4 linked regions of the Homo sapiens genome follow. The protein of the gene in region 2 purifies or fractionates together with the protein of the main gene of each other region. This does not show direct contact. Each region holds a gene or a part of one and is shown on either strand. Other genes may lie near its edges.

What was found.
Region 1: the proteins of MTX2 (region 2) and CHCHD6 purify together in Homo sapiens (co-immunoprecipitation; 4 studies listed by BioGRID and IntAct, with this or other methods). This does not show direct contact.
Region 3: the proteins of MTX2 (region 2) and MTX3 purify together in Homo sapiens (affinity purification with mass spectrometry; 2 studies listed by BioGRID and IntAct, with this or other methods). This does not show direct contact.
Region 4: the proteins of MTX2 (region 2) and CARD19 purify together in Homo sapiens (co-immunoprecipitation; 3 studies listed by BioGRID and IntAct, with this or other methods). This does not show direct contact.

Annotation. Positions count from the first base shown.
Region 1 is NC_000003.12:126,720,324-126,728,769, forward strand, and holds part of CHCHD6 (MICOS complex subunit MIC25), read left to right. Parts: intron 1-6,754; coding exon 6,755-6,863; intron 6,864-8,446. UniProt on the Homo sapiens protein: Component of the MICOS complex, a large protein complex of the mitochondrial inner membrane that plays crucial roles in the maintenance of crista junctions, inner membrane architecture, and formation of contact sites to the outer membrane.
Region 2 is NC_000002.12:176,327,712-176,336,157, reverse strand, and holds part of MTX2 (metaxin-2), read right to left. Parts: intron 7,866-8,446; coding exon 7,773-7,865; intron 7,285-7,772; coding exon 7,246-7,284; intron 6,858-7,245; coding exon 6,732-6,857; intron 5,575-6,731; coding exon 5,498-5,574; intron 1-5,497. UniProt on the Homo sapiens protein: Involved in transport of proteins into the mitochondrion.
Region 3 is NC_000005.10:79,975,430-79,981,922, forward strand, and holds the end of MTX3 (metaxin-3), read right to left. Parts: 3' UTR 1,287-6,493; downstream 1-1,286.
Region 4 is NC_000009.12:93,098,191-93,106,636, reverse strand, and holds part of CARD19 (caspase recruitment domain-containing protein 19), read right to left. Parts: intron 1-8,446. UniProt on the Homo sapiens protein: Plays a role in inhibiting the effects of BCL10-induced activation of NF-kappa-B. May inhibit the phosphorylation of BCL10 in a CARD-dependent manner.

The sequences.
Region 1 (8,446 bases), on a different chromosome or scaffold from region 2:
CCCAGGACCCCTGAGGTTCATTCCTCACTGCTGACCTCCCTCAGGACACCCAACCGGGGCTTCTAGTCCCTCAGGGGCCTGGTGCATTCCCACAGGGTCCACTCTGAAATGGGGGGTGCTGTCCAGTCGTGTGCTGGTAAATTTCTAACTGGCTCTGCCCTTCACCTCCCTCAAAGGGCCTGGTTTGTAGCACTGGCCAGTTTCTATGGTGGATATACCATTGTAGCCAATTCCAAACTGCTGTCATGAAGTCAACCAGCACATGTTTCCTGAAAATTTAAAAATGAGCTCTTAGCCAGTTTCAGCCACCATTTGGATGCCCAGATCTTTTTGTTCAGCCTGTGTTCCCTGAAGTGCTGGCTTCAGGAAGTTCTCTGAAGTGTTCCCTCTTGAGTGCTGGCTCCGTGTCCCCACCTATGGAGAAAGATGTTCCACGTTGCTCCTGCTGTCACTTCGCACCCAGCCTGGTGTCCTGTTTCCACCCTCAGCATGTGGCTAAGTGCTTACTGGGGACTTGGGGCTTTAGATGTTTCTCCTCATTCTCCCATACACTGACTCACTCAGGGTCTTAGTTGCTACAGCCGCAAAAAAGGAGCAAATGGGCAAACTTGGGAAGGTTTCTCCCTTTTACAATGTGGGATTTTTGTATTTACCTACAATCAAACGGATCTGCTGCCTTCTTAGAATAATTTTCTTAATTTCCTCCCTTTCTTTGTCATTCTCACGCAAATTATTCCACGAACTTGAGATCAAAACTCCTTTTCTTCAACTCTGTGCTCTCGTTCATTCCCTGCAGTCAGGGCAGCCACCAGACGAGCCTTTCATCCCACCTCCCACGCAGGCCGTGGTGATGTTTCCTTGCTCACAAACTTTCAGCGTCTCCTCGGGATGGTTGGACCTCTCCCTTTGCCTGACTTCCAAGCTTCCTTCTGTGCTGGCTTCATCCAAGTCCTTCCACCCCACGCCTTCCAAAGTGAACCTATGGCGGCAGGCGCACGGTCTCTTCCTGTCTGTGCCTCTTCCCCGGTGCCCTGCCCTAGGCTATGAAGCTTCTGCCTTCTGCAGACATCGCTGCCGTCCCGCCCATGGGATGGAGCTTCTCCTGTGTCTAAGTCTGCGCCTGCCTTAGGGAACCCATCCCTCTCTTGGCTGCTTCCGGCCACTGGAATCCCTCCTTGTGCTGTTCTCATTGACTTCCTGTCTGGGCTGCTTCTCTTTGTTTTTGGTGTTCTCTCCCTTTTTATTTGTAACAGCTTTATTGAGATGTGATTCACATGCTGTACAATACATCCATTTAAGGCATGTGATTTAATAGTTTTTAGTGTATTCACAGGTATGTGTGACCATTGCCACAATCATTTTTAGAACATTTTCATCACCCCCACCCCCCACCCTCCCCACCAAATCCTACTTACCCTGTAGCTATCAGTCCCCACCCCGGTCCCTGCATTTCCCCAAGCCCAAGGCAGTCACGAATCTACTTTTGTGTCTAGAGATTTGCCTGTTGTGGAATACGCCACACAGTGTGGCCTTTTGGGTCTGACTCCTTTCACTTAGCGTAGTGCTTTCAAGGTTTCTCCATGTTATAATGTGTCAGTAGTTCATTCCCTTTTATGGCTGAATAATACTCCATTGTATAGATATACTTCATTTTACTTATCCATTCATTGGTTGATGAACATTTGGGTCCTTTCCATTTTTTGGCTATTACAGATAATGCTGATGTGAACACATGTTTTCATTTGTCTTTGGTGTACAATGAGAAGTGGAATTGCCATATCAAGTGGTAACTCTCCATATCCTCGCAAATACTTATTATAATTTGACTTTAAAAATTTATTTATTTATTTAGAAACAGAGCCTCACCTGTTGTCCAGGCTGGAGTGCAGTGGCACAGTCATAGCTCGCTGTAACCATGACTTCCTGGGCTCAAGCAATCCTTTTGCCTCAGCCTCCCAAGAAGCTAGGACTGTAGGCATGTGGCACCACACCTGGCTAATTAAAAAAAAATTTTTGTTTTTTAGAGAAAGGGCCTCACTGTGTTGCCCAGGCTGGTCTCAAACTCCTGGTCTCAAGTGATCCTTTTGCCTCGGCCCTCCAAAATGCTAAGATTACAGATGCGAGCCACTATGGCTGACCCTTACACGTTGACCTTTTAATTATAGCCATCCTCGTGGGTGTGATGTGGTACCTTATTGTGGTTTAAACCCGTGTTTCTCTAGAGACTAATGATGTTGAGCATCTTTTCCTGTGCTTATTGACCATTTGTATATCTTCTTTGGAAAAATTTCTATTTAGATCCTTTGCCCATTTTTAAGTAGGATTATTTTTCATTTTATTATTCAATTCTGGAAGGTGTTTATATGTTTTAGATAAAAGTTCCTTATCAGGTATATGATTTGTACATATTTTCTCCCATTCTGTGGGTTGTCTTTTCAGTTGCCCTATGGTGTCATTTGGTACTCAAAACTTTAAAATTTTGAAAAAGTCCAATTATTTATTTATTTCTTTCATTGCTCATGCTTTTGGTGTCATCTCTAAGAACGTATTGCCAAAGCCAAGGTCATAATGATTTAGCCCTCTGTTTTCTAATAAGAGTTTTATAGTTTTAGCTCTTAATGTTTAGGTCTCGGATCTGTTTTGTATTAATTCTTGTATATGGTGTAAGGTAGGTGTGCAACTATATTATTTTGCAAGGGATATCCAGTTGTCCCAGCATCATTGGTTGAAGAGACCGCTCTTTCCCCACTGAACCATCTTGGCACCCTTGTTGAAATCAACTGACCATAGAGATAAAGGTTTCTTTATGGCCTCCTTATTCCCTTCCATTGATATGTTTGGTCTTCTCTTGTCATATGTCATTAACTAGTTATTTGATTGTATATATCTTAAATACTACAGGGACTCTATTATTATTATTATTATTACAATCTTTTGTTACTAAGGAAATGTTCATGGTAAAAAAATTAAGATGCAAAAGTTCCAAAAGTGAAAATCCTGCCCCAGCTGCTCCTGTCCCCACTTTCAGGACCTCATCCTCTGAGTACTTTGCTAAGCAGTTTTGTAGATTTCTCCTTGGAGCAGATCTGTATATGTGTCTTATGTGCATGCATGTGAAATCCAAATGCAGTTCACACTTGCGGATATGTGTATATGCATATATTCAAATTCAGCAACATTTATATTTGTATGTCTGCATTTTTTTTTGCAAAATTGAGATGTGCAAAAAATTCTATGACTTTTTAAACAATCAGCAGTATATCTCATGTGTTTTCCGTGACAGTGTATGTGTATTCTACCTTGTTCTTTCTTAATGGTTCCATAAAATTCTATAGGATGTATATGCCGAAATTTTCTCAGTCAGTTCTCTATCTGTTGGATGTTTATGTGATTTCCTTTTCTTTTTTCCCTATTTCCTCCGGTGTCACAGTGAGTGTCCTTCCACATGCCTCTGTGTACATGGGGGAGTAGTTTTCTCAGTGAGATATTCTGGAAGTGGAGTTGCTGATCATGTCTTTTGTCTTACAGTAATTTTTAATGTCTTTCCCTCCGCTGTGTTTTATGATGCCTTGCACATATTAGGCACTTAATAAATATTTACTAAAGTGAACTCTTAAGGATTTTTATCCTGGATTGATCCCCAGCTTGCTGTTTCATCTCAGTAAACTGTTTTATGACACCCTTAGGCCTATTTCACATCCTCTAAATGAATGAGAGTTTTGGTTATCCAGTCTTCATTAGGGGAACTGAGGTGAAATTAGTCAAGCAGTATTTGATTATCTACTGTATGTGTGGCACTGGAGGTGTACAGAGATGAGTGAGATTCAGGCTTAGCCCTCAAGGTATTTAAAAACCATCAGGATAGGCAGGCAGGAGGTGTAGTACTTCTCTGAGAAGCACATGTGTGTTGTCAGGGGGCTCAGAGGAAGGGAAAAGGTGATACTGGCACACCTGGGAGATGGTGCAGACGTGGCTCCAGATACCACAGTACAGTGGACATCAAAATAAAGCAAATCATGAACTTTTTGGTTTCCTAGTGTATATAAGAGTTGTGTTTACACTATATTGTAGTCTCAAGTGTACACTAACATTATGCCTAAAAAGTGTATATACCTTAATTAGAAATACTTTATTGGCAAAATATGCTAATGATCATCTGAGCCTTTAGTGAGTCATAATCTTTTTGCTGGTGGGGGGTCTTGCCTCCTTGTTGATGGCTGCTGACTGATCAGGATGGTGGTTGGCTGTGGCAGTTTTGTAAAATAAGACAACAATGAAGTTTGCCACATCGATCAACTCTTCCTTTCACAAAAGATTTCTCTGTAGCATACGATGCTGTTTGATAGCATTTAACCCATAGTGGAGCTCCTTTCAAGATCGGAGTCAGTTCTCTAAAACCCTGCTGCTACTCTATCAACTAAGTTTATGATCCTATTCTAAATCCTTTGTTGTCATTTCAGCAGTGTTCACAGCATCTTCACCAGGAGCAGATTCCATCTCAAGAAACCACTTTCTTTCCTCATCCATAAGAAGCAACTCCTCATCTGTTCAAATTTGATCCTGAGATTGCAGCAATTCAGTCACATCCTCAGGCTCCACTTCTAATTCTACTTCTCTTGCTGTTTCCACAACATCTGCAGTGACTTCTCCATTGAAGTCTTGAACCCCTCAGAGTCATCCATGAGGGTTGGAATCTACTTCTTTTAGACTCCTATTAATATTGATTTTTTGACCTCTTCCCATGAATCATGAATGTTCTTAATGGCATCAGAATAGTGAGTCCTTTCCTTGGAGTTCTCAGTTTACTTTTCCCAGGTCCATCAGAGGAGTCACTATGTATGGCAGCTCTAAGCTTATAAATGAATTTCTTAAATAATAAGACTTGAAAGTAAAAATTACTCCTTGATCCATGGGCTACAGAATGGATGCTGTGTTAGGAGGCATGAAAATAACATTCATCTTGTACATCTCCATCAGAGCTTTTGGGTGACCAGGTGCATTGTCAAGGAGCAGTAATATTTTGAATGGATTCTTTTTTGCTGAGCAGTAGGTCTCAACAGTGGGCTTAAAGTATTCAGTAAAACATGTTGTAAACAGATGTTCTGTCATCTAGACTCTGTTGTTCCATTTCTAGAGCACTGGCAGAGTAGATTGAATATCATTCTTAAAGGCCCTAGAGTTTTCAGAAGGCTAAATGAACATTGGCTTCCATTAAAAGTCACCAACTGCATTACCCCCTAACAAGAGAGTCAGCCTGTCCTTTGAAGGTTTGAAGCCAGGCATTGATTTCTCCCCTCTAGCTATGAAAGTCTTAGATGGCATCTTTTCCCAGTAGAAGACTGTTCTGTTTAGTATTGCTACCTTCATCAATGATCTTACATAGATCTTCTGGATAACTTGCTGCAGCCTCTCCATCAGCACTTGCTGCTTCACCTTGCACTTTTATGTTATGGAGATGGTGTCTTTACTTAAGTCTTATGAACCAACCTTGGCTCACTTCAGTCTTTTCTTCTGCAGCTTCCTCACCTCTCTCAGCCTTGACTGAATTGAAAAGAGAGAGAGCCTTGGGCTTGATTAGGCTTTTGCTTAAGGGAATACGGTGGCTGGTTTGATCTTCTATCCAGACCACTAAAACTTTTTCCATATCAGCAGTGAGTCCGTTTCACTTTCTTACCATTCATGTGTTCACAGGAGTAGCACATGTAACTTCTTTCAACAACTTTTCCTAACTTGGCTAACTGTTAGGTGCAACAGGCCTAGCTCTCGGCCTATCTTAGCTTTCGACATGCCTTCCTCACTAAGCTTAATCATTTGTAGTTTTTAATTTAAAGTGAGAGACATGGGACTTTTCATTTGAACACTTAGAGGCCATTGCAGGGTTATTAATTGGCCTAATTTTGTTGTGTCTCAGGGGATAGAAAGGCCCAAGGAGAGGGAGAGAGACAGGGGTCGGGGAATGGCTCATTGCTGGAGCCATCAGAACACAACAGCATTTATCGGTTAAGTTCGCCGTCTTACATGGACAATGTTCTCAGTGTCCCAAAACAATTACAAGAGTAACATGAAATGTCACTGATCACAGATCACTGTAACAGATATAACAATGAAAAAGCTTCAAGTATCATGAGAATTATCAAAACATGACTGAGAGACACAAAGTACATGCTGTTGGAAAGACAGCACCAGTAGACTTGCCTGATGCAGGCTTGCCACAGACCTTCAACTTGTAAAAAAAAAAATGTGTTATCTGCAAAGTGGAATAAAGAGAAATGTGATAGAAGGAGGTACCTGTGCTTCACTTGCATGCTGTCGAGGAGCAGCCTTCCCTGGAGAAGGGGACATTGAGATACCTCCAAAGAAAGGATATGATTTGGATGGGTGGAGATGTCCCAGAGAGGGAGGTGGTGGGCTGGAGGTGGTTCAGAGGGAAGAGCATGCCTGAATTCAGAAGAGGTGAGAAAAGTGAGACATCAGGTTCCCCTGAGGACTGGGTGTGTGGAGGGAAGTGGTGGGGGTAAAGCCGCAAAGCCAGCAGGGGACATATATTGGTAGGCTTGGGAATCCGGATGGGCTCAGCATGGACCTGGTAGGCACTGGGCCACCACGAGAGGAGTTTTAGTAGAATTGCTTTGTTGGAGTTGGTCTTGAGGAAGCAGCGCATTCAGTAAATCTGGGGCCTGAATAAAGAGGAGGCTTTGCTTCCAGGCACTTCTGTGACATAACTTTTTCTTTTCCCTCTTTTCTGCTTCCTTAGCTGTCTGAAAACGTGGTGAACCGCATGAAGGAGCCCAGCTCTCCACCCCCTGCTCCCACATCTTCTACCTTTGGCCTTCAAGATGGCAACTTGAGAGCCCCTCACAAAGGTATGGGGATTGTGACAGTTCTGTGGAGTGTGGAGAGACAGTGAAAGGAGTGATGGGTGCTCACCCGAGCCCACCTGATGGCGCACAGGGCTCAGGTTGGCTTCTGGATGACGTTAAGCAGCTCTGTCTGGTAAGGGCTTTCCGGAAGAGCATGGCTTTCTGGGAGTGATGGGGCTGTCATCAGAGCTGCCGGGATTCGGGTCGGACCACCTTCCCTCTGTGCCACTTTCTCCATGTGGGAATTGAGGCAGAAGGACCTGAGTTGACAGCTCAGGAAAGAAGTTGCCTTTAAGGCTCCTCAGAGGCGGCATAGCCATGACTCAGCTTCAGCCACTCTAGCCTAACTCCCAAGTCAAAGAATGATGTGGATTCACGTGAACAGGGCCAAGTATAGGAGAATTCCGTCAGTGATTTAGGCGCCTACCGCAGCAGCCCTCACCTGAGCCTCAGGCCGAGAGCTCCTGTCCTGGCCCTTGGAATGGTTCCCTCTGGGCTTCTAGGAGGGGTCCTAGGAGTTCCTCTTCCTGGCCCACTGTGAAGCTGGTGCTCAAGCCGGGCTCAAAGCTGATTTGTTCCCTACTGTATTGTGCGTGTTGCAAATGAAGAAATTTGTGCTTTCCCCAAATAACGACTTGTAGCAAACACAAGGAAATAAAATTTTAAGGAAAAAAGTTCTAAGGCATACAAATGTTAAAATATTACAAAATAAAAAAGTCCTTGGAGCAACTGCTCAAAACATACTTGTTTTTGAGAACTTGGGTCTGTCTATCAGATTCCGTAACTCAATTAAAAAAAAAAAAAGATTGGCTGGAGGCAGCATGCCACCACGGAAGGACCGACTGTTCAGGTGGATAACCACCCACTAGATTGTTCTTCTTGGGCCTGGTCTCGCGTTACAGTTGCCTTTTCTACTCATCTTCCCTGTTGGGTTGAAAGAGTTTAGAATATGAGAGCTGTATCCTGCCCACTTAGTGTTTACTGAAGGCCACCCAGAACCAAGTCCTGTGCCCTGTGCCAAGACACAGTGATAGGTGGGCAGGGACCCTCTCTCATGGCACACCTGGCTCTGGTTATGGAGACTGATGAGTTATGTGTCATGTTGTGATGCAACACTGGAATCTGTACCAGGCTCACGGGAGAAGAGGGACTGTGAAAGGCAGGAGGAATGGTGGTGGGTGGGCACTGCGAATGGGCAGATTGCAGGAGCGGAGGTCCGGCGACAGGGTGCATCCCAGCCTGCTCGGGGGCCTAGAAGCATTGCCCAGGAGCCAGTCAGCACCTGGATTTGGACCCACCCCAAGATCTTTCTGAATATCTACCACTGTAGGGGATGTGTGAGATTCCCGAAAACCCTCCAAGAAGCCCTTGTCCTTTACTAATAGGGCTCACTTACTCCCCACGCTGGCTCTAACTAACTGATGAGAAGGGCTTAAGAGGAGTCTAACTTGACCCAATGCACTTTAACAAACTGGATTAACTCGAAAGAGGGAGAAAGTGATGATAAAAGCGAAAATTGCCATAATATATAATACTACACATCAGTTTCAGCTTTAGAAGAAATAAGAAGCATTTGCTTCAGTTTG
Region 2 (8,446 bases):
TATTACTGTGTCCCACAGTGATAAAGTTTTTGAGAAAATATGTGCTAGCCTACATAAATGTGAAAATATGTTGCAGTAATCTGGTTTGGCAGAATAAATTTGGGGGTTGGTAAAAATCCAAATTTGAACTCCAATACTATCACTTACTAGCTATGTGGCCTTGAACCCTATTGATAAGTAGTCTCCTAGAGATGCATGGCTTTAAATACCATCTTGATGCCACTGACTCCTAAATATTTATCTCTGGTCCTAATGTCTCCCCTGAGCTCTGGATTCATACATTCAAATGCCTACATAACATCTCCACTTCAATGTGGAGTATCTGTGGAGCAGGATGTGGAGCATCTTGACTAAGATGTGTGGGATACTTTATTTTCTCAATAGCAGTAATTTACAGTATCCCAAACCTGCTTGTCCCCCAAACTTCCCAAAATAAAAGGCACCACTATCCAACCAGCTGTTCAGGCCAAAAATTTAGGGGCTACTCTTGAGTTCTTTCTTTCACCCTCCTATATCCATTAGCAAGTCTGGTGAGACACTACCTCCAAAATATGCCCTGAATGCCACCACTTATTCTTCATTATGATTTCACAGTGTAACCTACCATCATCTGTCACCTAGACCACTGAGATAGCCTCCTAAAGTGTCTTACTGCTTCTACTCATTCTCCATACCATGGTCAGAATGACTAATGTCAGCAGATCATACCAACTCCAAGCACAAAATATTCTAATGGATTTCTGTTCTACTTATACTAAAATGCCAAACTCCTTACACTAAGCACACAGAGCCTTGATAATCTGGCCTCTGCCTGCCTCTTTAGCCTCATATCCTACCATTCATAGCATACAACCCAAACTGGCCTTGTTTCTTGCATTTGAACGTAACAAACTCAAGCCAATTAGGGAACCTTGACTATAACTATTCCTGCTGCCTAAAATACTCTTCCTCTGACTTCACACTGGCTCCTTATTTTTTAGAATAAGGTTTAAATGGCACATCTTAAAGTCTCCTCAGACCACTCAAATTAAAGTGGACATGTAGTCACTCCTTATCATGTGGTCCTTTTTTAATTCTACATTTGATAATTAATACCATATAATTTTTTTTTTGCTTATTGTGCATCTCCTCTACCAGAAAGTCCTGTAGAGAAAGGACCTCACCTACTTGGTTCCTGCTGTAACCCCAATACCTAGAACAATTCCTTGCACAAAGCAGGAATTGTGCAATAAATTTGTGTTGAATGAACCAATAAAAAGGTGACACACTTCTCATACCATATTATAACTGTGTTCACTTAACTGTTTCCCTCACTACACTCCAAGCTCTTCAAAGGCAATGCTGTATATATCTTTATATTCCCAGTTCTTAGCACAGTATCTAAGGAACTGAAGTAGCACTTGCCGAATAAATACATGAATTAAAAAAGAAAGCATCCTAAGATGTGTGGAATATTTAATTTTCTCAATAGTAGTAACTTACATTCTTTGAAAGCCTTCCACTCTTTTGACATTCATGAAGTGTTAATCAAAGTCAAATGTGCAATCTATGGCCATGTTTAAATGGGTAGCCAACAGTATAGTTTTAAAAAAAAAAATCTCAAGGGTCCTTAGACTCAACAGCACCATAATCTTATCATCACAGGAATGAACCAATAATGAATAGATCCCTGCAAAAAACCAAGGATGTAGAGTGGATAAATGGGGAGCTGAGCTGAGGCACTTGGTGAGAATAATACAAACACCAATTCTTCCACATCCTTAAACATATTTCTTAAGAGGTACATCTTATCTTACCAATTTAGAACTTATTTTCCTAATCCTTGTTTAGTGCCAGCTACCCTATACTTCTTGTACTAGAGCCTAAAAAAGGTGCATATATTCTCTGATGCAACTTCCAGTAGTATAGATGGGCACCCTTTATTAATAAATGAAGGCTCTGAAAGAGTTCAACTATCAATGTATGCTCAAATGAGAGTGCTCCAGAAGTACCCCTGAAGTGGTTTGTTGCAAATATATATCCACATAACTCCAGAGGTACTGAATTATATATGGGCATGAGCATATAAAAACTGATCTGATTTTACATAAAGACAGCAACTTTGTGGCAAGTTACTTTAGAACATCAACAGAAGTAGAATTCAACAGATTAAACCAAAGCACATACAGTTGTGTGTTGCTTAACAGGAATACATTCTGAGAAATGCACTGTTTGGCAATTTTCTCACTGTGTGAACATCATAGAGTCTACTTACACAAACCTAGATGGTGCTATACACCTAGAGTATATGGTACACCCTATTGCTAATAGGCTACAAACCTATACAGCACATTGCCAAACAGAATACTGTAGGCAACTGTAACACAATGATAATGTGTATTTATGGTACACAAATACTTGTGTATTTAAACATATCTAAACACAGAAAAGGTAAGTAAAAATATATTACAATCTCAAGGGACCATCATCATATATTTGGTCCATCACAGACTGAAAGGTTGCCATACAGGGCATGACTGTATATATCCACACACACTAACCTTTAAAGCATATTTTTTGTAATTTTTCCAAATTTGAGCAACTCCTTACACTGACTCTGACATATATAAATTACTGATTCCAACAAGTCTTTTTAAGAAGTACAAATAATATTTTAGTTGATAGGTGACAGTTACACAACTGTATGCCTTTGTTAAAATTCATAGAACTACACGCATAAAAGTGCCAATTTTACTAGATGTAAATTACACATCAATAAACCTGACTTAACAAAAAGACAAGTAACATATTTTATCCAGTATTTCTACTGAACTATTTAATCAAGTCAAGATCTTCATATACCTCCAATTTTAATTATCTTGCTATATCACGTGAAGAGAAAACACAACTTTCTACCCTTCTGCTTACCAAATAGTTTGTGATTATAATTCAAATATAGATAGCAATTCCCCTCCTATGAGCTCTAAGATGTTTCATATATTATTGCATTTATCTTTATAGACTTTTTATTAGAAAAATATTCCAGGGTGACAAATATATTTTTAAAGTCCTAAGAAATTTGATGCCTTCTTACATTATTATTCTTTCCACATTCCTGTTGGTTATCTACTATTTTTTCATTTGAATATCAAAACAAAAACAGTAAAATTCAACGTTTTCATAACATTTTCCATTTAAGATTTTTCTGGCACTCAGTAAAATTCAACATTTTCCTAACATTTTCCATTTAAGATTTTTCTGGCACTCATATTTTTTGCTTTGCTTATTCATTATTTCACATTTATTTCTCTCTGATACCTTCATAGTATCATCTATATTAATGCTTTCAAAAGCATTAATTTTGTCTGAGTGTTTCCTAATTGTTCTTTCCCATTAACTTTTCATCTCTTTATAGTACTAGAAATAATCTACGTTATCTTTTCTTTACATCCTAATCACTTATCTTTAGGGCTGTCACCCAAGTTTTGTAAATCAAGCCCCTTGCTTTTTGGCCTCTTTTCCCAATTATTATTCTTTCTGTGAGATCTCCCTTAACTACCCTTTTCCTTTTCTCTCATCAAGTAACGGTATTTGGTTTCTTTCACGAGTCCTCCCAACATCCCCAGTAGTTGAGCTAGAAGGAAAGTTAATTCTAATTTTAGGGGATTAATTCTAATTGTAGGGGGTTAATTCTAATTTTAGGACTGGCATACACATAGAGAAATTAGAGTAACTTAGAGATATGTCAGAGCCAAGAATAGAATTCAGACCCTCTGACTTGCAGTATAATACCTGACTTAGGCCACAGCTCTATTCAACATAGTATCTCACAAAGTAATGACTCCTGCTACAGATAAAGGAATGAGAAAAATGTTGGCACAAGGAAGTGAAATACCAGTTACTTTTTTCTAAATGTACTTTATTTGCATTTTAGTATTAATTAAATGATCGAATAAAATTAAAAATCAAATCTCTTCTATCTTTAATCTTATTTTTAGGGAAAATGTTTATCTAAGTATCACGCAAAGGAAAATTATGTCAAAACTCTACATCATAATATCAATTAAATAGTTCCTCAAAAGCAAGGCTTTGGTGTTTGAACTGTTCTAAGTTAGAAGTTTTCATCACAAGTGTAAATGTAATTGTGCCCTTATGAAGAAAAATGATATCTTGATATTTCCACTGAGTCACATGCCAAACTCTGGTTACTAACACAATGACAATGAGTTTAACTGAGAAGAAAAGTAAGTTAGATCTATTCTCCTGGCCTCCTCTAAAGACAGTGTGCATAACAAAACTAAAATAGAATAATGCATTTCAATAAAACACACCCCTTCTGAGCTTTTCAATTCCTAAGAATTCCTCTGTTAGAAAGAAAAGAAATCACGTAATATTGACATTTGGATACATTTCTCTTGTGTTAGGGACTGAAAAATAGAATCTGTAGAGCAAACATCACTAGAAACAGGAACAGAGTTGTAGAAGCTTTACCCACCAGAATTTCACAGTTTGAATTCTGAAGATTTTTCTGCTTCAAAGATCAACAGAACCCAGATTTTAATATCAATTATATATGTATATATTACTTGTGTTATAGATTAATATAACTTAAATATTTCCAAACTATCATCATAGCCATTTTTACTACAAATATTATCTTTACCCAAATATGTTTGATATGGTTATAGAAGAGGAATGCTTATGACGATATAACACATAATAGCAAATAAAGCCTTTTAGAAATTATTAATCTAAAAATCAAATAATTTTTATTAAAATGTCAAGAAAAGGTCAGACTTTCTAGGGAAAGTTTTGAGATTAAAATGCTTTAAGCCCATCTTACACTGGATCACAGGACAGCTGATTCTGATATATTAAAATTGTAATTTTTTAACAACGGAAAATTCATTCTTTGCCTTCATTAGAGTCTTTTCAAAACTGCAAAAGCAAATCTATTAATGAAACATTATTCAACTTACATATATACACATATATTTAACCTATATCCTTTATATTAATTTCTGTGTTTTACAAATATTTTCATTAACATTTTAAAAGATAAGTTCATAATAGTGCTTGTCCATCAAACAATATTTTTTAATATTTAGTTTTATTGACTCTTCTAATCCTCCAGCTATCATTCTATATAGAAAACCATAGTTACATTAATAGTAACTTACTTTCCTTCATGTTTAATAGTACAAGTTTAGAATTTTGTTAAGATTTTGTAGTTCCATGTATAGCACCTTGAACTACCTCATTAAAACCTTATCATACAATGATTGATTTACATGACTGCCTTTAAGAGAAATTCTTAATGATAAGGACCATATTTTAGAAATCTTAGTCTCCTAGAGCCTAGCACTGTGCCTGAGAGTAAAGTGCCACAAAAATATTTGAGTACAAAAATTATAAAAATAGCTAAATATTTTCTTGAAAAAGCAATTCTTTTATGAAAAAAAGAAATTTGCAACCTAACAGTACAGAAAATTAACTTTAAAAAAGTAAAATTTCTTACTGCTTATTGAAGAAATACGGTTGTGTTCCCAGTCTTTGAGAGAGAGCTTGACAGCACTGGTCTACATCCTCTAAGACCTAACACAGGCAATGAACCCCAAGGAAAAGTATTTCAATTAGCAAAACAATAAAAAGTATCTAAAACGTAACTTGTATCACAGTTTATAACAAAAATATAAATTTAAGTTAACCTTTTATAATATATTTTAATAAGACCATAGACCACATATATATATAATACTTTCTATATAAGAAATACTTATAAGAAATACTTTCTATATAAGAAATACTTATAAGAAATACTTTCTATATAAGTATATATATATAATACTTTGTATACAAGAAATAGGAAGAAATTCTCAGTGAATGTCCTTCAAAATACAAGTACATTTAAGTTACTTATAAGGATTTTGTCAAGAACAAAAGTGTCTTCCTGAATCCATATATTCAAATGGCTTTGCATATACCAAAAAATCTGCTTAATAAAGGTAACAACATTGACCCACTATGAGTAAAAGCATTTGAGTTATTTTCCCACTAGTGGAGATAGATTTTTATTTATTCTATCCCTATTCATTTACTGAAACCCCCTTGTAGCCAATGGCACACATCAGTGAGATGGCTGGCTAGTATTAAGGGTAGCCTTGGAAAAGACGGGCATTAATTAACTTAATGATGCTTGTGGACAAGATAAGTATTTTTAAGTTTTGCTACTTTAGTAGCAAAAATATAGATAGACAGATAGATAGACAGATAGACAGATAGATAGACAGACAGACGGACAAAGTACTGTATTTAACAGGGCTTTTTTTTTAAGCCCTGATGCTGCAGATCTATATTTAGTTACATAAAAGGTGCCCACAATGTATTGTTCAATTAAAAAAAAAAAAAAACCCTCAGGTTATACAGTAGCAGGCATAATGATCCCATTTGAGAAAATGTTACTAAGAAACATCTAGAAGAAGGCTCTCCAAATAGTTAAGGGTGGTATTTTCTAGGTGATGAGATTTCAGGCAAGTTTTATTGCTTTTTTACACATATCTGCATTGCATTGTTTGCTTTACATCAAGCATGTATGATTTTTTAGAAATAAAATTACTTCATGTTAGTGAAAATCACAGGAAATGGTTTTCTTGCAAATCTTATATATATTTTTTTAAAGGAGTATCAATATAAAGAATGATTCTTTTAATGCATAAAAGTTGAGGGTTTTGTCAACTTCAACCTGAACTGACCTGGTCCAGAGTCTTCTTTCCCCATCCAATAGCTTTCATCTTACGTTTGACTTCCCACTGTTTTTGATAGGCCAAAATATGATTCAGAGGCCAAGGGTAAGGAGATCCATACCTAGCATGAGTGATCTAAAGTAAAAAGATTTTGTAAAAAAGGTGATCCTTCCTAAAAACAATGCCCGTTTTTACAAATAGAATTCTAAAAGAAATATATTTTCAGAGAACATAAATAGAGCAATCTGAAAAAAATACACATCCTGCAATCTAAAAAATTAAAATTTTAAGCCATTCCCTTTAAAAATATATAAACTTTTATGTACTTTGCAACCCGTTATATCAAACAATGACACATAGCTTCCCTAAAATGTTATGTGCAAGCAAAATTAAAGTAAGTGAAAAACTATATCACTAATGGTATAAACCACAATGTTTCATTTATGAGCAGGGACTTGCGATTCTGAGCAAAAGTGTTTTCTCATTAAATTTTAATTAAGATAAATGTTACAGAACCACTCACCTCCCCTACTGTAGCTTCATCACACCACTGAAGATACAGCTAGGAACAAAAGAACAGTCACTAAACTTTAGAATACCAAAGAGGAAAAGGATAAAGAAAGTTATTTTTTGCCAAGGCAATTTTTTATAAGCTAATTTCATAAGTCACACATGTAGCGGTTTGTTTTTCTTAGCTGCTATCCACAAAAATGTAATGATGGTACGTTATAAAAATATTTTTTATTCACACAATACATGTCTAAATACCATTAAAGTGTTTTACAGATATTATTTAAGCAAATTTCAAAAGGCCAAAGTAAAATAATGAGTAGGCAAGAATCACTCCTTTTTATAAACAGAAAAACTAGAACTGAAAATGTCAGGTAACTTGTTCAAAGGTAATAATCAAATAATTTAGGTAGCCAACTCAACTCTAGAATTACTTGACTATTTTCCCATTTCTCAATAACTTTAACCCATAAGAAAGATTATATTTTATGAGAATGAGAGAAAAAGCTTATTTTCAAGCCGTATCATCTAGTATTTTACCTCTGCAGTCAACAGCATATTGTTGACTAATTCCATGTAAGCTTTCATTTCTGCTTTTTGGACTTCCTCCAGCCCATCACTAAGAGAATGGCCCTAAAGGGAATTTAAAAAAATTTAAAAGAACATCATATTAAATATACAAAAACTTTCAGTTATCTCACTAACAAATAACGTAACATGCAACTATACAATGAATTAAACGTCCAAAATGCCCCCTAAAAATTATTTTATATAAAAGCATAAATAATACTCTGCTATCACTACAAAATATTAGTATGTACTTACTTGTCATTATACAAATGTATCTTTCAATAGAGAAAATTACACTATCAACTACTTCACAAAAGAAGAAAACAGAATGGTCAGCAAACCTTGTTTAAGAGATTAACCTTATTTAGAAATAAAGGAAATGCCAAAAGACTGACATGTGCTGTTTATAAAGTGGTCAAAGATGAAAAAAATACGTTTGTAAAGATATGGGGGGAGAAACCCACTTATTTTAAAATTCTAATACTCTATAGTTACTAGGAGATACATAAAATGATATAACCTTTAGTTCAATCTGGCAATCTATTACAAGATTTAAAAAGTACATAACCTATGACATCCTAATACCACTCTCAGGAATTTATCCTAAGGTACCAATACCAACCTTAGGAATTTATACAAAGATG
Region 3 (6,493 bases), on a different chromosome or scaffold from region 2:
AAGGAGATCAGTATGGACATCCAGGAGTTTCTGAGTTCCCCAGATAGTCTCAGACGAAAGTCAAACCTCTGAGATGAGCAATTAAGAACCAACATTTTTGAAACTCTTTGTCATATGGTTCGCAGCTTTGTGACTCTAAATAGTTGTCTTTCCGCAAATAATTCCATTATTCCACAACAGCAACTCCTCTTTTCTGTTCTCTTGCAGCAAGCAAGTGATCATTACTCACCACCTCAATCCACCCAAGGGCTTTCACCTGGAACCCAAAGTGCGTAAGTAATTAAGATTTGTGTTCTTTGGGGAAAGGAGTATCGACAAAGATGTAGCTTGCTTCTCATGTGAGAAAAGTACTTACATACCTACACAGTTCTACTTGGAAGGCCTATGCATTTTACTATATGTAAATTACAACTCAATTTTAAAAAAATCTACTAGCAAAGACACCCATTCTCTCAGGGAACTTGCCCTTATTTAACCTACAGCTATAAATGACAGGGTTCTCTAGAACCATATACTTTGTCCCATAAACGAAGCAGTAAAAAAACCTGAATATCTTCCCTCCAACTAAAATTACATTATTTTTCTCAGTTAAATCTTCCATTCAATTACAATGGACTATCACTATACTATCTGGGTGAGCAAAAGGTATAATTTACAAGAAACTTACAGAGCTGAAGGGATGAGAGAACTATAACCCTGCAAAGTTGTGTGAGCATCTGAGGTCCTACACAAACCAGTGGCCTAGAGAACAGGCCTCTAACCTCCCTTAGCCTGGAGTGGCCAGAGCACAAGTGGTCTCAACACATAACAGAAAGAATGGACATTTTCTGGCCAGGCACGGTGGCTCACGCCTGTAATCCCAGCACTCTGGGAGACCGAGACGGGTGGATCACCTGAGGTCAGGAGTTCAAGACCAGCCTGGCCAACATGGTGAAACCCCGTCTCTACTTAAAAAAAAAAAAAAAAATACCAAAAAAAAAAAAAAAAAATTTAGCCGGGTAAGGTGGCAGGTGCCTGTAATCCCAGCTACTTGGGAGGCTAAGGCAGGAGAATTGCTTGAACCCAGGTGGCGAAGGTTGCAGTGAGCCGAGTTCACACCATTGCACTCCAGCCTGGGTGATAAGAGCAAAACTCTGTCTCAAAAAAAAAAAAAAAGAATGGACATTTTTTAAAAACCCACTATGTCTATAGCTCAGTCCCAGCCCTGAACAACCACATTCAACCAGCAAAAAATTCTTCGCGATGAAAAGATTTACCTCAAAGAATAAATAACATTAAATCGAGAATTCATAAGCAGTCAGGAGATTTGAGATTTTTATTGAGAAAATAGCTATTTTGACATTATATCCAGTTTCTCATTTATCAGAATAAATTCTTTACAATATTGATCACCATCACCACTTTAGTGTATTTGTACATAGTCTCTGAGTAAAATATATTCACACTCGGCAAGGCTAGAATATTGAAATTATGGCCAACATTGCTTACTTTAAGATTGTTTACTTTATAAAGAAGCTAGAGTAGTTGTGCAACTAGAACAGATGTTTTTAAAATGTTTGCCATTCAAAGATAGGCTTGGTGGGACAAAACTAATATGCATACTACATACATATATTTCTTGTCTTCTTTACTGTCAATCTTTCAGAACAGTAACATGACATTACAAACACCTCAAATTCCCACTTCAAAATGAACAGAAAAATGGAAAAACATTATTTCCCATTTCATAAAATTAAAAATCAAGTCAGAAGAGAAGTAAAACTCATTTTTATGCATTTAACTTAAAAGCTTGAATACACGACTCCTCCTAGAGAGAAGGAAGCCAGAACTTCAGAAGTAGCCAGTGGTCCAAAGAATAAATGGCCCCATGACCTTCTCTATGGTTCATGACTTACTGAGGGCTGATGCAAACTCTGGCAAGTTATTTTTCATGATTTCCAAGGATCTGGGATATGTAAACGAAATGATTAAAAGACATTTCTCTGAATTTGCAAGAAGACGACTGAAGAATCAGAACAAAGATCCAACGGCCTTTCACGTGGCTACATGTTCACCATTACACCACAACTCAAAACCCACAGGCGAGCTTTCTCTCAAATACACATTCAAAATGGTGTTCCAAATAATCCAATTGTATACATTGCAAAGACACACAAAATGCCTCCTTACACACGATTAGTAATCTGGTTTTAGACTCTGAAGTGATACCAAACATATTTAGCTAACCCTCTCAAAATTGCAGGCCTAGTGAGGTTTAAATGTTTTAGGATATAGAATCTGCTTAGAATTTAGTGAAAACTATGAACCGTAGACTGTCTTCGGTAATGAACAAAACTGGAAAATATTAAACTTCCTTTGCTTTGTCACTGAGCAACTATAAGCTTTCTATGATGTATGTATCATACTAGCTTGTATGTGACTTTAGTGTCATAAACACCCATTGCCTTTTTGGCACTTTTAAAGTACAGCCAGAAAAGGTTTGGAAAATTGTTCTGGAAATACAAGTTGGTTCCCTCTGTCTCATGGATGCTTAGGAACTGGGTAGTCTGCTGAAACCACCAGTTCAGCAGACCCTTGTACAGCTGTTCCCGGCCAACTGGGATCCTAAGGAAACAGGCTGGAAGAGCCAGGGGCCTCCCTCACAAATGCCTAAATAACCAACATATCTATGCCGACAGCCATCCCTCTCTCAATGCCATGGTCCAAGGGAGTCTTGACCTGTCTCTTCCCATTTTACTACCACTGGCTAGAGGGGCACCCAACAACAAGAAACCTTTGTAATGAGTATGAACTAGCAAAAACACTGTAGGGCAGCATTTCCTTAGGTGTATCTCTCAGAACATAAATCCCACAAGATACCTACTTTTAAAAAAATCTGGCCGGGGACAGTGGCTCATACCTATAATTCCAGCACTGTGGGAGGGTGAGGCGGGCAGAATCACCTGAGGTCAGGAGTTCAAAATCAGCCTGGTCAACATGGTGAAACCCCATCTCTACTAAAAATACAAAAATTAGCTGGGCGTGGTGGCAGGTGCCTGTAATCCCAGTAAATTGGGAGGCTGAGGCAGGAGAATCGCTTGAACCTGGGAGGCGGAGGTTGTAGTGAGCCGAGATCGTGCCACTGCACTCCAGCCTGGGTGACAAGACCAAGACTCCGTCTCAAGAAAACAAAAACAAGAAATCCATATTAAAATAAATTAGGGAAATGATGTATAAAATAGAGGTGCTTCTTGGAGATTTAAAATGCACATTAGCGTATCAAAGGTCTGAAAGGCCAACAGTAACTCAACTTTGTCTAACCCACTATTTCCCAAACTTACTTGGCCACAGAACCCTCTATTCTCCTAACAATATATTCTGACAAAACACTCCTTCAGGAACTGCTTCACCCAGAACCAAACAGGTGAGTTTTAAAAAATATTATAGCATAATTTCAAATGATTAATAAGGATACAAAGAGACTTATTTTCCTGTCTTTTGTTATTTTGTCTACTTATTTTGTTCTGAATAATCTTCTATCACATTTCCCCTTCTATTCACAAACCTTCAACTCGAGTTACCCTTTCTGATACCTTTGTTCAAGAATGTTAATTCTTATCAGAAATCCATGGCACACTAGTCTGGAAAAAAATAATTTTGTGTCTTTTTAAATTCCTAGAGTACCTCTCCACTTCAATCACAATTTAAGTCCAGGGCAGGTATCCTGGGCTCCTAGCAAACACTACACCCCAACAAGAGTTTGGGAGCCAAATTATTTTGCAAACCCTTAAGAACACAAACTAAAACTAATTTATCCTTATATCTCTGCAAAAATTAGCATTTTGAACATCCAACGAAACTTCAAGTTTGAGGATAATGGGCTTACTGACCTGACCTTTGATTTCACGTAACTAACAACAAATTTCTTTAAAATCTGGTTAAGAAATATGAAAATATTGAAAAGTAAACATAAATTCCACAAAGCTGAATGGCAGCAAAAAATATTTCTTAACATCAAGAACATATACAAAAGATGATCATTACCACCCAAATTATCTCTGTTGCTCAGGATTTCAGTTATAAAAATAGCCAAATCAAGACAAAGACAATTACAGCTTAAAACGAAAAGCTACACCTTCTTCATTAAAGGTGAGCATCTTGTCACACTGTGCATATGGAGAGAGAACAAGTACAAGGCACGGGAGAACTACCATGTCAAGGGACAGAGCTTTTTCAAAATATTTTATCCTCAGAAGTAAACCCCACTACCATAGAAAGAAAAAAATATAATTAGATATTTTAAATCACAGCATTTTTGACTTCCTAGGGAAAAGGAGTTTTTGGTTTTAGGGTTTTTTTTTTCTTTTCTGGTAAGGCAAAATAGATCTTTAGATATCATTTGTTACAAACATGAGTTTTTCTTAAGAATGAAATAAAAATTCTATTTAACTTCTATCATATATTTATTCAACTAAGTTGAATACTATGTTTAGAAAATTAAAGTTTTAAATCATGGTTTATATATAGATAATGATACATTTAATCTATGAATTTACTTTAAAACCACTTTTATTTTGAAATACTTAAGACTCACAAGAAGTTATAAAAATAGTTCAGAGAGATCCCAGGTACCCACTGCTTAGCTTCCTTTCTTTACATGTAAGCATTTATATCTAGGTTTTAAAAGGGTTGAAGTTTTTGACAGTTGATGAAAAACTGTCAAAAAATTGTAACAAGCCTGGTAAATGCATATTTTTGGAGGAGGTTCTAAGGAAACACTACCAAGTTCAAGTACCACTTTTATCACATGCAGCTGCCTTAACCAACAGGTTTTCTAAGATACTATCCCCCTTACCTGTTTCTGCCTCTTTCAATGGTGTTTTTCCATTTTTACAGACTTCTGAAAATTTTAGCTTTGATTGAAATAAGCTTCCCCATTCCTTCATGTTAATATATCTAGCAATATTGAATAGAAATTATAAATGGAAATAAAAATGCTTGCTTTTATAAAATCTCCAGTCTCGCAGCACCCCCAATATAATACAAACAAACTTAAGTTGAAATTTGGTTTGTTAATGCCCACCTTGTGTGGTCAAAACACAGTTTTGAAGGAATGACCACCTTCAATGTTCTTTACAGCTTCTTTAGTGTTACTTAAAAAAAAAAAAAAAATCAATCTGATGGATGATTGATGGTAGTTTGTTCATGGAAGATCTTCATCTTATGGGAATTATCTAGTTTTTCTAATCATATACTACCAACAAAAATAAACACAAGCATGTTCCCTTTAATCATATTATCCTCCACCATTACTTCCAAAAGGCATTGGCTCACAGTATTCTGTTTAAGATTGTGGACCATTTATCCCAATGAACTCACTCAAACTTTATCTAAAACATATCATGACAGGCTGGTCCAACAGTCTGTTCAGTCTGAAAAAATGTTCTGTGCTCTGTTCAGATTGACAAAATGTTCTTTTTGGCCGGGCGCAGTGGCTCACGCCTGTAATCCCAGCACTTTGGGAGGCCGAGGCAGGTGAATCACTTGAGGTCAGGAGTTCAAGACCAGCCTGAGCAACATGGTGAAACCCCGTCTCGACTAAAAAAAAAACAAAATTAGCTGGGCATGGTGGCACATGCCTGTAATCCCAGCTACTTGGGAGGCTGAGACAGGAGACTTGCTTGAACCCAGGAGGTAGAGGTTGCAGTGAGCCGAGACTGCGCTACTGCACTCCAGCCTGGGCAACAAGAGTGAAACTCTGTCTCAAAAAAAAAAAAAAGTTCTTTTCTAAGAGCTTCCTGTATGTGTGGCTGCTCCCTAAAGTACTTTGTGCTCAGTTACAGCTTCCTGTCATCTCATTTACTTATACATAAATAGCTCAACTAAGTAACCCAACATATAAACTCTCACTAAACTCACATGTTGCATCTTAGAAAAGGTGATCTGGAAGCATTATGGACTATAGTGAGAATGTAAGGCTAACAGCAGTTCAAAGTAGGGATGACACAAAAACAAATAAATCATATTGACAGTCATTCCCTCTACTAAAAAAGAATAATACTTGTTATTCTAAAATGACCTCTTTTGATTAAAATTTCAGTTCATAAAACATTACAGTATGCTTCTTTATCAAAGTCTACATATCAGAAGAACATGAGCTCCACGTTCCTGTAAAACTTTAAACACATTTTTCTTCCTAATAGACATTAGCAGTTTTGTTGAAAAGAAAAATTGACATAACCTAGCATTATCTTTTGACTTTGCCCATGGAGAAACTTGGAGTTAAATTTACTACTTAATTTTAGAATCTGTCAGTGTTGATATGGTTCTATAAATTTTTAATTTTTTTAATTTAAATTTTTAAAATTTTTAATTCTTTAAAATTTAAAATTTTTAAATTGTCCTGTTTTACATGTAATATACTTGTAATATACATGTAATGTACTTGTACGTTATAACTGTAATATATTTCAAATACTTTTTGGAGGGTCTGATATAAATCTGATATAAATTA
Region 4 (8,446 bases), on a different chromosome or scaffold from region 2:
CATTCCTTATCAGCAATTACTTCAAATGCAAATAGGTTAAACTTTGTTTTTTTTTTTTTGTTTTTTTTTGAGATAGAGTCTTGCTCTGTCACCCAAGCTGGAGTGCAGTGGCCCAATCTCGGCTCACTGCAACCTCTGCCTCCTGGGTTCAAGCAATTCTTCCTGGGATTACAGGCATGTGCCACAACACCCAGCTGGTTTTTGTATTTTTTTTTTTTTTTTAGTAGAGACAGGGTTTCACCATGTTGGCCAGGCTGGTGTCAAACTCCTGACCTCAGGTGATCTGCCTACCTCAGCCTCCCAAAGTGCTGGGAATACAGGTGTAAGCCACCACACCCAGCCAAATTTTCCTATCAAAAGGCATAGATTGGCAGAGTGGATTTTTAAAATATGATACAACTAAGTGCTGTCTACAAAAGACTCACTTTAGATCTAAAGACACAAAGAAGTTGAAAATGAAAGGATGTAAAAAAAACCCATACAAATAGTAAACAAAAGAGAGATGAGGTAACTATACTAATATCAGACAAAATAGACTATAAGTCAAAAACGATTAGAAGAGATTAAAAAGTACATTATGTATTAATAAAAGGATAAATTCATCAATAATATGTAACAGTTATAAACATATATGCACCAAATATCAGAGCTTCAAAATATATGAAGCAAACACTGGCAGAATTGAAGGGAGAAATAGATATCTCTATAATAATATTTGGAGACTTCAAAACACCACTTTCAGTAAGAGACAGAACCACTAGACAGAAGATAAATGAGGAAACAGGACTTCAACAACACCGTAAGCCAATTATACCTGGCAGACATACACAGAACACTCCATACCACAATAAAGAAGAGATATTTTTATCAAGTGCACATGAAACATTCCCCAAGATAGGCCACAAAACAAGTTTGTAGCCACAAAATAAGCTTTAATATATTCAAAAAGGTTGAAATCATATAAAAAATATTTTCTGATCACATAGAATGAAACCAGAAATCAATAATAGAAAACTAAAAAAACTCACAAATATGTGAAAATTAAACAGCCAATGGGGCCAGGCATGGTGGCTCACACCTGTAATCACAGCACTTTGGGAAGCTAAGGCAGGCAGATCACTTGAGGCCAGAAGTTTGAGACCAGCCTGGCCAACATGGCAAAACCCCATCTCTACTAAAAATACAAAACTTAGCCGGGCATGTTGGCGCACGCTTGTAATCCCAGCTACCTGGGAGGCTGAGGCACGAGAAATCCTTGAACCTGGGAGGTGGAGGTTGTAGTGAGCTGAATTTGTGCCACTGCACTCCAGCATGGGTGACAGAGCAAGACTCTGTCTCAAACAAACAAACAAAAAACCAATGGGTCAAAAGAGAAATCATGAGGTAAATTAGGAGGTAACATGAGAAAGGCAGAAACACACACACACACACACACACACGCACACACACACGCGCGTGCACACACACACACACACCTTACACCGCGCTAAAACCTAAGGGATGCAGCAAAAACAATGCTGAGAGGGAAAATTATAGTTGCAAATGCATATATTAAAAAAATCTTAAATCAGTAACCTAACATTACACCTTAAGGAATGAGAAAAGGAAAAAGTAAAGACCAGAGAGCTTGAAGAGCAAACTAAACCCAAAGCTCACAGAAGGAAGGATATAATCAAGATTAGAGTGAAGACAAATGAAATAGAGAATCGAAAAACAGTGGAGAAAAATCAAGAAAACCAAAGTTGATTCTTTGATAACATCAATAAAACTGACAAAACTAGCTAGACTGACAAAGAAAAAGAAGACTCAAATTACTAGTATCAGGAATAAAAGTAGGACATTACCATGAACTTTACAGAAATAAAAAGGAATATAAGAGAATACTATGAACATTTGTATACCAATAAATTGGATAACGTAAATAAAATGAAAACATTCCTAAAAACACAATCTACCAAAACGGAACTGTGAAGAAATAGAAAATCTGACCAATAACTAGTAAGATTAAATCAGTAATCAAAAATGTCCCAAGAAAGAAAAGCTCAGGACCAGATAGCTTTGCTGGTTAATTCTACCATATATTTAAAGAAGAACTAATATAGCTTTGCTGGTTAATTCTACCATACATTTAAAGAAGAACTAATACCAATCCTTCTCAAACTTACAAAAAAAACTGAAGACGAGAGAACACTTCATAACTAATTCTATGAGGTCAGCTTTACCCTGATACCAAAATCAGACAAAGTCACTTCAAGAAAAGAAAACCACTTTGGGAGACAGAGGCAGAAGAGTCACTTGATGCCAGGAATTCAAGACCACACTTGGGCAATACAGCAAGACCTTGTCTCTGTGAAAAAAGAAAAATGGAAAAGAACACTACAGACCAATACTCTTTATGAATATTGATGGAAAAATTAATAAAATCCAGCAAATCAAATTCAGCAGCATATTAAAAGAAGTATACATTGATTTATTCCTGGAATACAAGGATGGTTTAACATGTACAAATCAAAAATCAATCAATGAAATATACCACATTAATAGAATGAAGGAAAAAATACATGGCCATTTCAGTTGACATAGAAAAAGCATTTGATAAATGTCATCATTCTTTCTTGATATAAATATTCAATTAATTAGGTCTAGAAGATGCTATGGTTTGAATGTGTCAACAAGCATGTATTGGAAACCTAATCCTCAAAGTAACAGTACTGAGAGATAGAACCTAATGGGAGGTATGTAGGTCATGAGGGCTCTACTGTCTTGAAGGGATTAATGCCAATTATAAAAGGGCTTGAAGTTTCAAATTTGTTTTCTTCCTCTCTTGCTCCCTCTCATTCTCTCTAGCCCTTCTGCCTTCCACCATGGGATAACACAGCAAGAAGACCCTCACCAGATGCTAGCTCCCTGATCTTGGACTTCCAAAACTCTAGAAGCATGAGCCTATAAATTTCTGCTCATTATAAATTCCCCAGTTTCAAGTGTTCTGTTATAGCAGCACAAAATGGACTAATACAGAAGGAAATTTCATCAACATGATAAAGGCCATAGAGTTGGCACTCTATCTCTGCAGTTTCCATATCCAGGGATTAAATCAACAGCAGATATAAAATATTTGGGGAAAAGCAATACAAAATAACAATACAACCAAAAAAATACAAGTTTTAAAAATACAGTACAACAACGATTTACATAGCATTTACATTGTGTTAGGTATTATAAGTAACCTAGAGATAATTTAAAATATATGGAAGGATGTGTATAGGTGCAAATATTATAGCACTTTATATAAGGGATTTGAACATCCTCAGATTATTTTGAGGGGATTCCTGGAACCATCCCACCTCATATATTGAAGGACATTTTTATATGAAAAGCCCACAGCTAACATCATACCTTAACGGTGAAAGACCGAAAGCTTCTTAAGATCAGGAACAAGATAAAGATGTCTGCTCTTACCACTTCTATTCAACATAGTACTAGCAGTCCTAACTAGAGCAATTAGGCAAAAAAAGGAAAAGGGAATAAAAGGCATCCAAATTGTAAAGGAAGAAGTAAAATTTTCTCTGTTCACAGATGACATGATTTTATATATAGAAAACCCTAAAATCTTTTTCTTTAAAGTTAGAGCTAATTAAAAGCATGCAGCAAGGTTGCAAGATATAAAATCAACACACAAAAATATTTCATCTCTACATACTAACAATGAACAATCCAAAAATTAAGAAAACAACTCAATTTATAATAGCATTGAAAAGAATAAAATACTTAGGAAAAAATTTAATCAAGAAGGCAAAAATCTTGTACACTGAAAGCCACAAAACATTGCTGCAAGCACTACCCAGAGCAATCTACAGATTCGATGCAATCCCTATCAAAATCTTAAGTGTTTTTTGCAGAAATAGAAAAACCCACCCCAAAACTCATATAGAATTTCAAGATACCTGTATAGCCAACAACAAAAATCTTAAAAAAAAAAAAAAACAACAACAGGGTTGGAGGATTCATATTTCCTGCTTTCCAAACTTAGTGTAAAAATATACAATAATGAAAACAATGTGGTACTATCATAAAGACACACATATGGGTCACTGGCATAGAATAAGAGAGTCTAGAATTAAACCCTATTTTTAATTAAAAGAGTGGAAAAAAAGAAAGTGAAAAAACAGTTCACATAAATGGAAGAAATATTTGCAATGCATATATCTCATAAGGGATTAGTATCCTTACTCCATAAAGAACTCCTACAACTGAACAGCAAAAGACACAGAGAACCCAATTCAAAAATAGGCAAAGAACTTGAATAGACATTTCTCTAAAGAAAATATACAACTAGCCATCAAGCACACAAAAAAATGCTCATCAGGCCAGGTGCAGTGGCTCACACCTGTAATCCCAGCACTTTGGGAGGCTAAGGGGAGCAGATGACCTGAGGTCACCTAAGGTCAGGGGTTCGAGACCAGCCTGGCCAACATGGAGAAACCCTGTCTCTACTAAAAATACAAAAATTAGTCGGGCATGGTGGTGCGTGCCTGTAATCCCAACTACTTGGGAGGCTGAGGCAGGAGAATTGCTTGAACCCAGGAGGTGGAAGTTGCAGTTAGCCGAGATGGCGCCACTGCACTCCAGTCTGGGAAACAGAGCGAGACTTGGTCTCAAATTAAAAAAAAAAAAAAAATGCTCATCATTAGTCATTAAGGAAATTCAAATAAAAACCACAATGAGATATCACTTCGTACTCATTAGGATAGCTATATATTAATATAACAAATGTTGGTGAGGATATGGAGAAATTCAAACTCTTTGGCATTAGTGGTGAAAATGTAAAATAGTGCAGCCACTGTGGAAAAAAACAGTATGGCAGGTCCTCAAAAATCTAAACATAGAATTATCCTGTGATGGCCGGCACGGTGGCTCACACCTGTAATCCCAGCACTTTGGGAGGCAGAGGCAGGCAGATCATGCAGTCAGGAGATCGAGACCATCCTGACTAACATGGTGAAACACAGTCTCTACTAAAAATACAAAAATTAGCTGGGTGTGATGGCGGGTACCTGTAATCCCAGCTACTTGGGAGGCTGAGGCAGGAGAATCGCTTCAACCCGGACGGTAGAGGTTGCAGTGAGCCAAGATCATGCCACTGCACTCCAGCCTGGGCGACAGTGAGACTCCGTCTCAAAAAAAAAAAAAAGAATTACCGTGTGATCCAGAAATTCTACTTCTAGGTATGTACCCTAGAAAACAAAAAGCAGGAACTCAGTCGAGGGTGGTGGCTCACACCTGTCATCCCAGCACTTTGGGAGGCTGAGGTGGGCAGATCGCTTGGGGTCAGAAGCTCAAGACCAGCATGGCCAACATGGCGAAGCCCCGTCTCTACTAAAAATACAAAAAGCTAGCCAGGCGTGGTGGCACTCGCCTGTAGTGCCAGCTACTCAGGGGGCTGAGGCACGAGAATCACTTGAACCCAGGAGGCGGAGGTTGCACTAAGCCAAGATCACACCACTGTACTCCAGCCTGGGCAACAAAGTGAGACTCTGTCTCAAATAAATAAATAAATAAATAAATAAATGCAGGAACTCAAATGGATACTTGCACACTGGTTTTCATAGCAGCACTATTCAAAATAGCCAAAAGATGGAAATAGTGCAAATGTTCACCAAAAGACGAATGAATTATCAAAATGTGGTATATACCTATGTACAATGGAATATTACTCAGCCCTAAAAAGGAAGGAAATTATGATACGTGGATGTTACAACATGGACGAACCTTGAAAACATTATGCTAAGTGCAATAAACAAGGCACAAACGGACAAATATTATATGATTCCAATTATATGAAGTACTTAGAGGGGTCAAATTCATAGAGACAGAAAATAGAATACAGATTACCAGGAGGTGTGGGCAGAAGGAGAAAGGGGAGTTATTGTTTAACGGGTACAAAATTTCTGTTTGGGATGATAAAGAAGTTCTGGAAATGGCCAGTGGTGATGACTACACAACACTGTGAGTGTATTTAGTATCACTGAAGTGTACACTGAAAAAATGGGTAAGAAGGTAAATGTTATGTTTCCATATATTTTCTCACAAAAAATGTAAATGGATAAATAAACTCTGGTTTATCCATACAACGAATATTATTCAGTGCTAAAAAGAAATGAAGGCTGGGCGCGGTGGCTCACGCCTGTCATCCCAGCACTTTGGGAGGCCAAGGCAGGTGAATCGTTTAACCTGGGAGGCGGAGGTTGCAGTGAGCCGAGAGTGCGCCACTGCACTCCAGCCCAGGCAACAGTGAGACTCTGTCTCAAAGAAAAAACCAAAAACAAAAACAAAAACAGTGTCATCATGTTGAACACAGTGGGGCCCCCTCTTGGGTTCACTCCTTGAGGCACAGACTCAACAGACTGTTTTACTTTGTCATGTCTCTTTCCAGTTGCCACTTCCTCCTGGCTGGTCTTTCTGTACCCCAGAATGTGGACCCACCCCAAAAGCAGCCATGCTCCGTGGGGCCCTGTGCAGACCCTACAGACTGAGGCCCAGGTGAGAACAGCCCGTCTCAGTACGCTCGCCCTGTGCGGGGCTGGGGACCACGGTGATGGGCAGATCCATCCTCCAGGGGCTCACAGTGTAGGGGTGCGGGCTGGCATTCACCAAGCAAACCCACAAACGTATCCTTAACCCCAGAGATACCTGCCCTCCAGAGAACAATAGGGGGGCCATCCTGGTTCACAGGGCCCCTGATGATGCCCACATTGAGGCCATCAGCCACTCCATCATCTGGCTGAAGCCACTCACCGTGGGCCGCGCAGGGAGGCAGATGGCTGGGGGCTGGAAAGGCTGGCTCAGCCCTCACCTGCACTGAGTCCCACAGCAGCCTATGCGGACTTGCCAGCAGCCCCATCATGGTGAGGAAGCTGAGCACAGGGACGTCAAGTGACCTGCCAAGGCCACATGGACAGGCCCAGCTGGGCAGTCTGGGTCCAGCGCCTGCAGCCCTCTCGTTAAAGAACTAAGATGAATTAGCCAAAATTCACAGAGCAATCCCATATGTCTGGCACTCTGTGAGCCCTACGTCACCTACAACCTTCATCCTTCCAACAGCTTTGCAACATAAGGACAACCACCAGCCCCATTTTCAGGTAGGGAAACTAAGGCACAGTGAGAAGATAAGGTACCTGCCCAAGACTGCAACCAGATATGAAGTGACAGATCAAGATCCAGGCCCAGGCACAGCCATGTTGAGGACCACCTCTTGATATTCAGACGTTCTGCCTCTCTAATTAACATGGAAATTCACTGTAATCAGCTACAGCAGTCTACTCCCTGCCAGTCCAAAAGCACGCCCAAGGCTGTCCTCTCCAGCATTGCCCACTTGGCTGAGCACCCAGTAGGTGCTCACTAAAGAGTTCTGCAGGCCGGACGCGGTGGCTCACGCCTATAATCCCAGCACTTTGGGAGGCCGAGGCAGATGGATCATGAGGTCAGGAGTTCAAGACCAGCCTGGGCAACATGGTGAAACCCCATCTCTACTAAAAATACAAAAAAAATTAGCTGGTCATGCTGGCACACGCCTGTATTCCCAGCTACTCAGAAGGCTGAGCCAGCTACTCAGGAGGCTAAGGCAGAAGAATTCCTTGAACCCAGGAGGCAGAGGTTGCAGTGAGCCAAGATTGCACCACTGCACTCCAGCTTGGGTGACAGAATGAGACTCTGTCTCAAAAAAAAAAAAAAAAAAAGAGTTCTGCAATGTATGGTCCAAGACCCAGGGGCAAGGGCTGTAGGTGGACCGTGGCCAGCATCCTGTAGTGGCTTCCTCCTGCCCTGCAAGCCGCTAACCAGGCAGAGCCTCCGCTGCTGCAGAGCCATGAGTCACCATGAGCCGTGAGTCAGCTGGCACAGGCCGCACGGTCCGGAGGCTGAAGCCAGGCTCTGCGGCTTGGGGGTCCTGTGCTTCCTGTGGTTGCGAGTTGTGCACACAAACAGGCAGCACTTGGAAGCCAGAAAAGGCACAAGAAGGGAAACCATCTCAGTGCCAGCTCCCGATAAACAAGTCCCTGAACTGTTTTTACAGGACAAAGGAAGATGGCTCGCTCTGGCACAGACCTGGCAAGCCTTCACCACGCCCTACATCCCCTTCCTTCTTGCCAGGCTGGCACCAGGACTATGGACCCCCATTCAAACACCCCAATATGAACCTTCTTATCAGCCCAGACTGATGCCCTCAGCCTGGCATTCAAGGCCCCGTGGGAGCTGGCCCCACCCACTCTCACCGGGCCCTCTAGGCCCACAAGACATCTCAGCCCAGGCTGAGAATACCTGTTCCTTGGTTTCCACCTGGTTAATTCATGTTCACCTTGCTGTTCTACGTGCAAAAGGCCTTCCTGAGTTCCTGTCATCCCCAACCAACTGGAGTCCAGACACTTGGGCATCAACCTCCTCTCCCGAA